Linked DNA regions of Homo sapiens: region 1 is reported to be linked to region 2. The links are microRNA targets in miRTarBase. Many come from high-throughput screens and were not tested one by one. Region 2 holds a microRNA gene; the other region holds the end of a gene's coding sequence.

Evidence for each region. The annotated mature microRNA hsa-miR-6775-5p reads UCGGGGCAUGGGGGAGGGAGGCUGG and lies in region 2 at 2,212-2,236, opposite strand. An mRNA with a match to its seed (bases 2 to 7 or 8) in the 3' UTR can be bound and repressed. Matches are read on the target gene's strand: a 7mer-m8 pairs with bases 2 to 8, a 7mer-A1 pairs with bases 2 to 7 and ends in A, and an 8mer does both.
Region 1: the mRNA of RGS6 is a reported target of hsa-miR-6775-5p. Seed matches in the 3' UTR shown: 7mer-m8 at 1,378-1,384 and 7mer-A1 at 4,592-4,598.

Annotation. Positions count from the first base shown.
Region 1 is chr14:72,561,694-72,566,756 of GRCh38, forward strand. RGS6 (regulator of G protein signaling 6) reads left to right here. Exons shown (of 18, transcript NM_001204424.2): 18 at 724-4,837. The coding sequence ends at 774. Among named protein-coding and RNA genes, the nearest start is that of MIR7843, 47 kb to the left of the region's middle.
Region 2 is chr16:87,832,420-87,837,492 of GRCh38, forward strand. It overlaps MIR6775 (microRNA 6775), which reads right to left and starts at 2,241; the gene lies at 2,173-2,241. It overlaps SLC7A5 (solute carrier family 7 member 5), which reads right to left. Exons shown (of 10, transcript NM_003486.7): 8 at 4,079-4,228; 9 at 1,995-2,172; 10 at 1-606. The coding sequence ends at 551. It overlaps SLC7A5-AS1 (SLC7A5 antisense RNA 1), which reads left to right and starts at 3,846. Exons shown (of 2, transcript XR_007065175.1): 1 at 3,846-4,383; 2 at 4,994-5,073. RefSeq lists enhancers at 1,612-2,166, 4,258-5,073 and a silencer at 2,184-2,478.

The DNA.
Region 1 (5,063 bases), not on the chromosome of region 2:
GAAGAACTGCCACATGGGTTATAGTTGAAGGGCTTGTAGGCTTTCCTGGTATGGGGTCATCAAACTCTGCCTCTGGGTGCCACAGATGGGAAGCCAAGAACATAGGAGACAGCAGGAGTGCACTGCCCTGGGGCCTACAGTGGCTCTGAGCCCCAGCAAATGCCCCCCACTTTCATGGTCCCAGAACTGGTCATCAAGAGGACTCAAGGTCTTTGTGTCTACCCTGCATTCCAAACAGGACTCTGCCTTCTTAAGACTAGTTCATTCATTAGCTTCTGATCAGCCAGATCCTTGGCCACCCTCTATTTGAGTCAAGCCCCCGTCCCTGATCTCAGAACACCCCAAGTCCACCTTTTCCTCCCCCACGTGAACAAAATCAATTTCAGGGCAGCCCGCCGGCATTAAAAATTGCTCTACCTAAAGGTTTAAATACCTGGTTTTTGGTAAGTAAAATTCCCATACCACAAAAAGAGTACCAACAACACACCCTCATAAGGGGACCCTCCAGGACTCCCTGAACCTTCCCTGGAGCCCTGGTTTCTCCAGCTGTCCAAAGTTAAGGCTCCCATACACCTAGAGATCAAATATCAAGATGGTCAGTTGGGTTGGTTGGTCGTTTGGCCTACATGGCTCATGCAACAATTAATTCACCTGTCTGGCTCTCTGTCTCTGTCCCTCTGTGTGTGCGCCTGTGCGTGCCTCTCTGTCGCTGTCTCTCTGCAGGGAAAGTCGCTGGCGGGCAAGCGCCTCACGGGCCTGATGCAGTCCTCCTGACCGTTCCTACCGCAGGTCCAGGGCCTGGGCCCGCGGACCCCACAGGCAGGCGGCGGCGCTCCACATCTGCGGACAGAGTTTCCTTACGAGGAGACTTGGTCACTGTGAAGGAGAAAGAGTGAGGGCAATGAAGGGCGATGGTGGGGAGACTCGGTGGGTGAATGGGGAGACCAGAAAGAAAGAGTCCACAGAGCCTGGGCTGGGCCCGGTGGAGGCTCCTGTTTACAGCCCTCTCTTCTTTGTACAGTTGTATTCCAACACTCCACTCGCTAAGAGGCCCTGATCCCAGCTCATTCAGGGGAGAACACGTCGTGGGGTTCCTGTCACGACTATCACTTGAGATTATATTATTATCCTCACTCCCTCGCTGTCTGGAGACGGTCACACCTTCTGGCAAATTCAAGAGGCATGAGTGGACCGAGAGCACATCCAGCATTTGCATCACCTCCCTGGCACCTCCCATAGTTACAGCCACTACATCCCCACCGCCGCCTGTCATCCCTCACGTCTCTGTGGCCACCCGGGTGTCACTGCCAGCACCAGGCACTGCTTTCACGTAAAATGTCCAAATCACATCTTCAGCAAGAAAGCAACCTCACGGATTGCCCCGCCTCAAGGTCTTTCCACCCTCTTTGAGATCAGCGTTCGGAGAGGTCCCCGCCAGCCCGGTGGCTGCCCTCAGGTCCCGTCACATGTCTCAAGGGTCCAGCGTTCGAGGAAGCACTGTTGTAGATGACAGAGCTTTTTGTTTCACAGCTGCGGGGATTCTGCTGACCATCTTTTAGAAAATTATTTCATAATTTATTCTGGCTTTGCCCCCTTGCTCCTTGGTTTATTCCCTCATGTTTTACTCAAAATAAACATGGCCATGAACTCAGGGGCCATTGGGATTCTCCCCTCTGGCAGCCCCAGGTGGGAGCTGGGAGGGTCCCCAGCCCAGGAGGTGGCTGGATTGCAGGGCTGGCAGCCCCCACGTGGTGGCATCCTGACAGGCACAGTGAGACCCTTGCTGGGTCAGGTCTCCTTTGTGTGTGAAGCTGGGGCAGAGTATGCTACGAAGGGACCAGGCCAGGCCACAGGGCTCTCCTCCCAGTCTTTATCTGAAGGCCCAGCCAAAGCACCCCTCTAAACCGGTCACCTAGGGGAAATGCAAAAACCTGCAAAAGATCCACCTGTATTCCCTGTGTGTGTGTGTCAAAATGACCATTTGCCAACCTGGCTGTGAGGTAATGTATGTAAAGCACCGAGTCAGGTGCCTGATACGCAGTAGGTGCTTAGCAAACGGTAGCTAATACTATCATCATTGTCATTGTTATTGTGACACCCATGAGCCCACAGACAGAGCTGTATTAAGTAACCTGTTTTGAATCCAGACATTCACTCCCCCACTTGCTATGACTACCCTCCTTTGATCTATTTTTGGTCATAGGTAAAAAAAAAAATCTCTCTTGGGAGCATATAAACAAAAAACATAGAAGCAATAAAGCGATCGCTGGTATTTCTTTTCTCATGCAGCCAAATTCGCCAGCTGGTGACCAAAGGCTCAGATGCTTGCTTATTTGCAGACCCGGCCTCCTGGGTGCTCCCCAGTGACCCATCTTTCCACCCCACCACCTCCAAGTCCTGTCTATGTCTGCTTCCACACAGCCCTGTCCCCAGGGCACCAGCCTTCTGTCCCTCACAGCAGTGCCATCGCGGGCATTAGGAGTCTTCGTTATGTTGTATCCTTGTGAGTTCTTGACTACCATGCCCAAGTTTCCCCCACTGGCAATGGTTCCTCTCTTGGAGGTACAGTGGAAACCAGAGAGATGACAGATGTTGAGTCCTCAGTGTCTCAGAGGCAGCAATTCTTGCTGGACACCTGCACATGCTCAGCACAGAGGCTGGTACTTTGGAGGCACTAACCACTTGATGAGTAAATCAATGGCATAAAGCCCCATTCCAAGTTATGGGGTCTTTTGACAGGCCCCTTTCATCCTCTTTCTCTTTGTATAAACCTCATGTTTCAGAACAAAATTACAGTCTAAGTTCATTTGCCCCCAGCCTTGCCCAAGGATCCCCGGGCTGTGCTGACCCCTAGGCATAGGGCAAAGGGTGTTCCCAAGCAGCAGGCACCTCAGTGCCCTCAGTTATCCAGGGCAAGGGGCCTGGCTGCCCCCTGCTCCTCCCCATGATGCAGGGGCTTTCTAAGCCAGGCTGCAGACAGGGCAGGGTTGGCTTCTTGGCCATTCCCTCTGTGCCCCCTTCTCCTTCTGACTGGTCTCACCCTGGAGATCCCCAGAGGATCTGACCAGAGCCAGGTGGACTGTGGCCCTGAGATGGAGCTGGCTGCAGGCTTACAAGCACCTCTGGGGACATCCAGAGGGGAGGGTCAGTAAGCACAACGGAGCTAGGGAGACTTCAGATGGACTCAAACCCAGAGCAATAATACTCTCACACCACCCCACAGCTAAGGCACTCATGTTCCCCAGTAGATCAAGCCAGAAGCTTTGCAAGAAGGGAGTGGAACGAGGCTGCCTATCCAAGGTCCATCTACCACGCAGAACTTGGTCATGCAAGTACATTTGGAAAATCTGGTCTTGGCCCGTCCCCCATTGGCCTGGTCTACACAGCCAAAAATTCAGACTAGATTAGATGTTTGCAGGCAATTCTGTAGCAAAGCAAATTCCCCTACCCCGTCCCTTCCCCCTAGAAGCTGCCTTAGCCTCCCTGACTGGGTGTGGTCTCTGGGCCTAGGACTCCTCCCTATGAGGAAAAGTGCTCTCCAGCCACATCTTGGCAGCCCCACAACCACAGCATCAGGGCAGCTGCAGCAAGTGACCACCCACCCGTCGGGTTAGACACACAAGGCACCAGGCACTGGCATCTGACTAAAATAACCTTTCCCTACATGGGAAGAGGAAAGCTTGTAGGCTGGCACATATAAACGTCCAGCCGCAGCCAGATGGCCTGAACTAAGCAGCAGGAACTCTCTGGGCTGGGGAGGAGCCTCCTGCCCTTCTAGAAAGTGATGCGTCAGCTTTGTTCTCCTGGGAAGGTGTTGCTATACCCCAGGAACAAAGCAGGGCCCAACTGCCAGTGCAGTCAGCTGGGCCTGCGCTCCAGGCTCACCACCGCTAAGTGGTCAGGTACCGGGCCAGCATCCTGGGAGGGACCTCTTGCGACTCTGAGTTGCAGCTTGGACTAGCTGAACACATGGGGACATGCTCCAGGGGCTTCTTCCCTGGCAGGATTCCTGGGATTTCAAACTACCTCACCAACAGGACGCTGAACCAGGAGCCTGCCACCCAACTGGCCCCCTTGGTGATTGTGGAAGGTGATGTTTTTCCTAAAATGCATCCCTCCTGTTCTGCTCCATATACATGTGCTTCAAAAACCACCACCAGGAAAGCCTTCCCAGAAGAGGGAAAGGATTAAGGGCTCTCTTCCTTTGGGCCCTGCAGAATGTATTGGAGGGAGGTGTTGCTGCAAGGTCCAGGAGCTGGGAAACTCTGGGCTCGGGGGGAGATAATGCACCACCAGCCTCAAAAAGGAGCTGCCCAAGTTGAATATGTAGCAAAGACCATGGGATAAGTTGAATAGTGGCCAGACGAATCACTAATAACTCACCATGGGACCCTCTGAAGAGAGGCCTGTGCTCGTGTAACCATAGCAACAGCAGATGCCAGCAACCTACTCATTAGTACCACCCAGTGATAAGGCATCCCCTGGGCTAGACCCAGGGGCCATAAAGTAGCAAAGTAGCAAATGTAGCAATAAAGGGCCCGGGTCTATACGGGGACAGGGTCCAAATGACCAGGACTTGGCCCTCTCCCCAGCCCCGATGAGGGCTCAGAGCCAGCTGCTGTCAGCTGTCTGGGGAGGGAAGGCCCTGCTCCATACCAGGGGTCCCTGTTCTATACTCTAAGCCCACTCACCGCATGATCACGGACTCATCGGAATGGCCTCCTCTTAGTGCATGTGGTTCTCTTTAGTTTATTTTTCTGGAATTTGGGGATTGGACCCCAGAACCAAACATGCTGGTACAGTCTAAAAATAAATGACTTGAACCCACTTCAATCCAGCTAACTCTGTGTGGCTCCTTGGTTTGGGGGTTCGTTGGGCAGGATGTACCTCTAGAAAAATCGACCACCCCTCCCCACACTCCACCCTTCCCCATTATCACACACACACACACACACACACACACACACACACACACACACACACACACACCTGTTTCCTTCTCACTCCCAACCAGGCTGCCAGGCAGCACAGAAAAACCAGATCTCTGGGGCATTGGACTCATC
Region 2 (5,073 bases):
GAGTTTCCACTCTGCAAACCCTAAGGCAGAGACATAAGCCCACAGGGTTGGTTTTCACGAATGTCACAAGCCCATGTGTCTGGGCAGCTGTCCGGCTTCAGTGCAAGTCTGTGGTAGCAATGAGGTTCCAAGTCTCAGTAGCTCTGTTTGCCCAGGGTCTGGGCCCTTGGGGCAGGAGAAAGGAAGGCTCCTGCCTTCCCCCAGCTCCTTAAAAAATCATCTTAGTGGTGTCAAGTTGACCCAAAATTTAAGTTTAAAAAAAATATATATATAAGTAAACAAAGGAGGGAAGGGAAAAAGGGCCCAAGGAGACCAAAAGCTGCTCCTGGGCAGGAGCACAGGCACACCTGGGTCCCTGGCCCTCAGTTGAGGGATGAGATTCGTACCAGAGTTTTCACAGCAGCCTCCACTGCCCGACCTGGGAGGGACGGCGAGGGACTGGGATGGGCAGCTGAGCTGTGGGTTGCGGGGAACCGGAGTGGGTTCGAGGAGGTGATCTACTTTAACTGGCCTCTGCGCATGCTCCTCCGGCAGCCACTCGGCCTCCTGGCTATGTCTCCTGGGGGACCACCTGCATGAGCTTCTGACACAGGACGGTCGTGGAGACTGTCAGGAGAGAAGACAGCTGTGTTAGCCTGGGGGCTGGGTAGGCACCCGTGGGACACGGGGGCGTGAGCTGGGGCTCCCCCAGCCCTGCTGTCACCAAACCCAGCGCCGCTGCCCAGCGCTGGGATTTTAAGGAACCTTCCCTTGTGTACTTGCGCATGTGGGTGCCGGGTGCCCGAGGCGCTGTCTTCAACTGAAATGCGGAAGTGCCACATCCCACTCGGCCCACCCCTCGCCTGCTTCAGAACCCTGGGGAGGCAGAGTGCGGCCCCTGGGGCACACGAACCAGGCCCTGGTGTCTCAGCAAAGTGCAACGGGGGGATGACAGGCCTTCCTGCAGGTCCACACCCGGGCCACCACCTGGACACATGCCTGGACTGTTCACAGCAGGCAGGGCCGGAGGGGCCAATCTGCTAACGGGTCCTCGGAAGACCTGTCGCGCCTGGGACTGTCTACAGAGACATCACTCTGTGGAGGGGGACTGCTTTCAGGATAGAGACGGGGGTTTGCTTTAAGCTCTTGGTGTCCTGAATGACAGTTAATGCAGATCCCACTGCAAAGCTTGAGGCAAATGTTCTACCATGACCCTGGCGGTGATCAGAGTGTGGGGTAGGGGTGGGGGGTCTCCCTGCCTGTGTTGCTGCCATCCCGGGAATTCTCCAAGCCACCCAGTGACATGGGGATCAGCATGTAGGCCCGCAAGCACCCCGGCCTTTTTCTACGAGCCTGGCCACATTTGCAGGCGCTGAGGACGGGGTCCTGAGCTTGGTGACAAAGCACCCCTGGGGCTGCCGCTGCACACAGGGCCGGGGGGCGGGTTTCTCCTTCTGCCTTTTTTTTTTTTTTTGAGAAGAGTCTCGCTCTGTCGCCCAGGCTGGAGTGCAATGGTGCGATCTCGGCTCACTGCAACCTCCGTCTCCCGGGTTCAAGTGATTCTCCTGCCTCAGCCTCCTGAGTAGCTGGGATTACAGGTGTGTGCCACTACACCCAGCTGATCTGTGTATTTTTAGTAGAGACAGAGTTTCACCATGTTGGCCAGGCTGGTCTTGAACTCCTGACCTCAAGTGATCCGCCTGCCTCTGCCTCTTTCTGCCTTTCTGGGTAAGTCTGCTGTGTCCGCTGGTGGCAGCCAGCAGGATTTTGTTACTTGGCAGCAGTAGCCTGGTTTTCCGGAATCCCTCGTCCTGAGAGATTAGCTGGTGCTGCGCTGTGTGTCTTATCCCTGAACCATGTGGGCTGCGTGTCACTGGCGGACACTGCAGTGACCTGAACCCTCCTGCCACCCAACACGCTTCGCCCCATGTGGGTGGAGACGGCCGACGCCTCTCAACTCCCTTCGCTGCCCAGGGCAGAGGGTACCACGGGCTGTGGGCCAGCGAGATACTCACAGATGCCCTGGAGGAGCCACTTGGGCTTGTTTTTCCACCAGACCCCGAAGAAGTAGACGGGCAGCCCGCTGAGGATGATGGTGAAGCCGATGCCACACTCCACGGGTGTCTTCCAGAAGGAGACGGCGATCAGGAAGAGGCAGGCCAGGATGAAGAACACAGGCAGGGCCAGGTTCACCTGGGGCAGAGGACAGGGCCTGGGTGAGCCCTCTCCTGTCCAGCCTCCCTCCCCCATGCCCCGAGGTTCCTCAGCCCTCCTGGGCCCTCCACACCCACGGCTGCTGACTTCCAGGTCACCAAGATGCGATCTGCACTCCATCTGCCTCACACACCGGGCTGTCCCGCCCTCGACTCTGCATACAGTGCTGGGCATGTTGCCAGGGGCTCAGGCGGCTTATGATGAGGGATGGAAGGAGACAGCTTCGTCTCCCGAGGCCTCCCACGGGCAGGGAAGGTCACGGCTCCATTCCCACATCACAGGCCTGGAAACCCTGAGCCGCCAGGACGCACAGGGGCCTGATGCTTCCAGGAGACAGTGGCCACCCACTAATAAGCCAGGAGACCACCCTCTTGGAGACGCCGCTGTGGACAGCGCTGAGCAAAAGCCCATCCCTGAAGCTGCAGCCTAAACTGTCACCTTCAGCAGATGAGCTCCACCCGGCACAGAAGCCAGGCAGGGCTGCAAGGAGCCTGCAGGCCGCAACCTGCGGCTCGGCATGGCTGGGGGATTGACTCAGCTGTCCTGAATCCATACTTGGACAGGGCACCCTGGGAGATGCAGGGCTGACCACAGGTCCCAGCCCATCAGTGTGGGCTGCATGACTGCCCTGTCCCCAGGGAACAGACGCCAACCCGTGCCCAGGCTCACAACAGTGGGTAGAGCCTACCCCATGCCCAGGTCCCCATGGGGGCTGAGCCCCCGCTGTGCGCAGTGACTGCCCTGTGCCCTAGGCACTGCCCCAGGCTGGCACAGCAGGCACAAGCTGGTGCCCATGTAGGGCGGCTCCTCCCTGCCCTCTGCAGCCTTCTCTTGGGGCAGCATCTGGGTTCTTGTGCTGACTGTATTTTAAAGCCCCTGTTTTTTTTGTTTGTTTGAGACGGAGTCTCACTCTGTCGTCCAGGCTGGAGTACAGTGGCGCGACCTCGGCCTCCCAGGTTCATGCCATTCTCCTGCCTCCACCTCCCGAGTAGCTGCAACTATAGGCGCCCGCCACCACGCCCAGCTAATTTTTTTGTATTTTTAGTAGAGACGGGGTTTCACCGTGTTAGCCAGGATGGTCTCTATCTCCTGACTTTGTGATCTGCCCGCCTCGGCCTCCCAAAGTGCTGGGATTACAGGCGTGAGCCACCGCGCCCAGCCTAAAGCCCGTTCAACAGCATTCACAGGCACCCCCGGGGCCCCCAGGCTTCGGGAACACAGAGGGAGAGATGGTCCGGGCAGGGAAGCAGGGGCTACTGTGACAGCCATAGGCCAGCTGAGTGACAAAAGCTGCTGGCTAGCAGCCACCAGGGGCTCTGGCCTCTTGTTCTGTGTCAGGGCCAGGGCGGCGGGACTTGCTGGGCCCCAGGCAAGAGCATGGCCTCTGCTGGACGGCCCCGTTTTTGGAGAAGGCAGCCCACGGATAACAGCTACCCCTCTGAATGAGCCGCTGGGGACGGGGAGAGTCCAGGAGAGTCCAGCTGGGCCCAGGCGCTCCTCGGGCCGGGTTCCCTGCATTCCTCCTGCCAGCACAGCCCCGACGGCCCTTTGAATGCTGCGCCAGGCCCGGCTCTGCCCCGCCCCTGCCGGGGCTCACCACCGCCCACCTATGACTGCAGTGTCCTTATCTGCTTCCCTCCACCCAACGGAGCACAAGCTCTGTGCCATCTGCTGTCCTTTGAGGAACCCCGGCTCCTGCAGTCACACTTGGCACCCTCGTAGCTGGTGGTCAAGTCATCACCGGAATTAGTCGACCCAGGTGCATGCAGGCAGGGGCAGGTCCAGAGGCTGAGCTGGGATGCTGGCTCCCAACTCAGGGTCCTTAGGACCCACGGACCCTGCCTCTGTGAAGGGTGCCTGGGTGAGCGGGAGGCCCCGGGCTCACCTTGATGGGCCGCTCAAGCTCAGGCTTTCTGTGGCGCAGCCAGATCATGCCGATGATGGCCAGGGCCACGCAGAGCCAGTTGAAGAAGCTGAAGAAGTTGATGACGGAGAAGATGTCCTTGGAGAAGGCGTAGAGCAGCGTCATCACACACTGGAAGAGAGAGGCGGCTGGCTGAGCCCTGGGGCCCACGAGCAGGGCTGTGGACGGCCGTGGTGGCCACCGGGGACTGTCCAGCCTGGCTGGGCCCAGCTGAGCACCAGGGAATTTTGTTTTAAAGGAGAAACCTCATCTGAGCAACATGCAAGGTCTTGAAGGAGGAAAGGAGGGAAGGAGGGAGGAGAGGAGGAGGGAAGAGGCGGGGAGGAGGGAAGGAGGGAGGAGAGGAGGGAAGGAGGGAGGAGAGGAGGAAATGGAGACCACATTTGGGTTAAGGACAGGTGAAGAACACAGTGTACATACACAGCTGGGCTCTGCTGGACTGTGGCTCTGTGTGCGAGGGCCACAACCTGACCTAACCCAGTGGTCACCAAGAAAACAGTTTCTGTAACCCCCGGCACAGCCGTGCTCCCGAGGACCGTGCAGCTGCCAAAGAGTCCAGGACTTGCTGCCCTTCCTGACTGGCTTCTAACTCAGGGAAGGAGTAGTAAGCAAGGGCCAGGACCTCTGAGGCCAGCCCACAGCTGCCAGACCCCAGCTTCCTCTGCTGTATCTCACTGGCTTTGGGGGAAGCAGCCTGTTGGGGGAGCCCAGTGTGCTCAGGGGTGGGGCCTGCAGCCCACAGCCCTGGAGGAAGCCACTGTGGAGTGGCCTCTCCAGCCCTGGTCACACCCTACGATGAGAACACAGCTTCAGGCACCAGCTCCCTGAATTCCTGACTTACGGAAACTGTGAGATAATAAGTGCTTTTCCTTTTAGAACACTACATTTTGGAGTGATGTGTGACACAGCCAGAGGGAACAAAGGCAGTCACGCGGGCTGGCACGGAAAGATGCAGG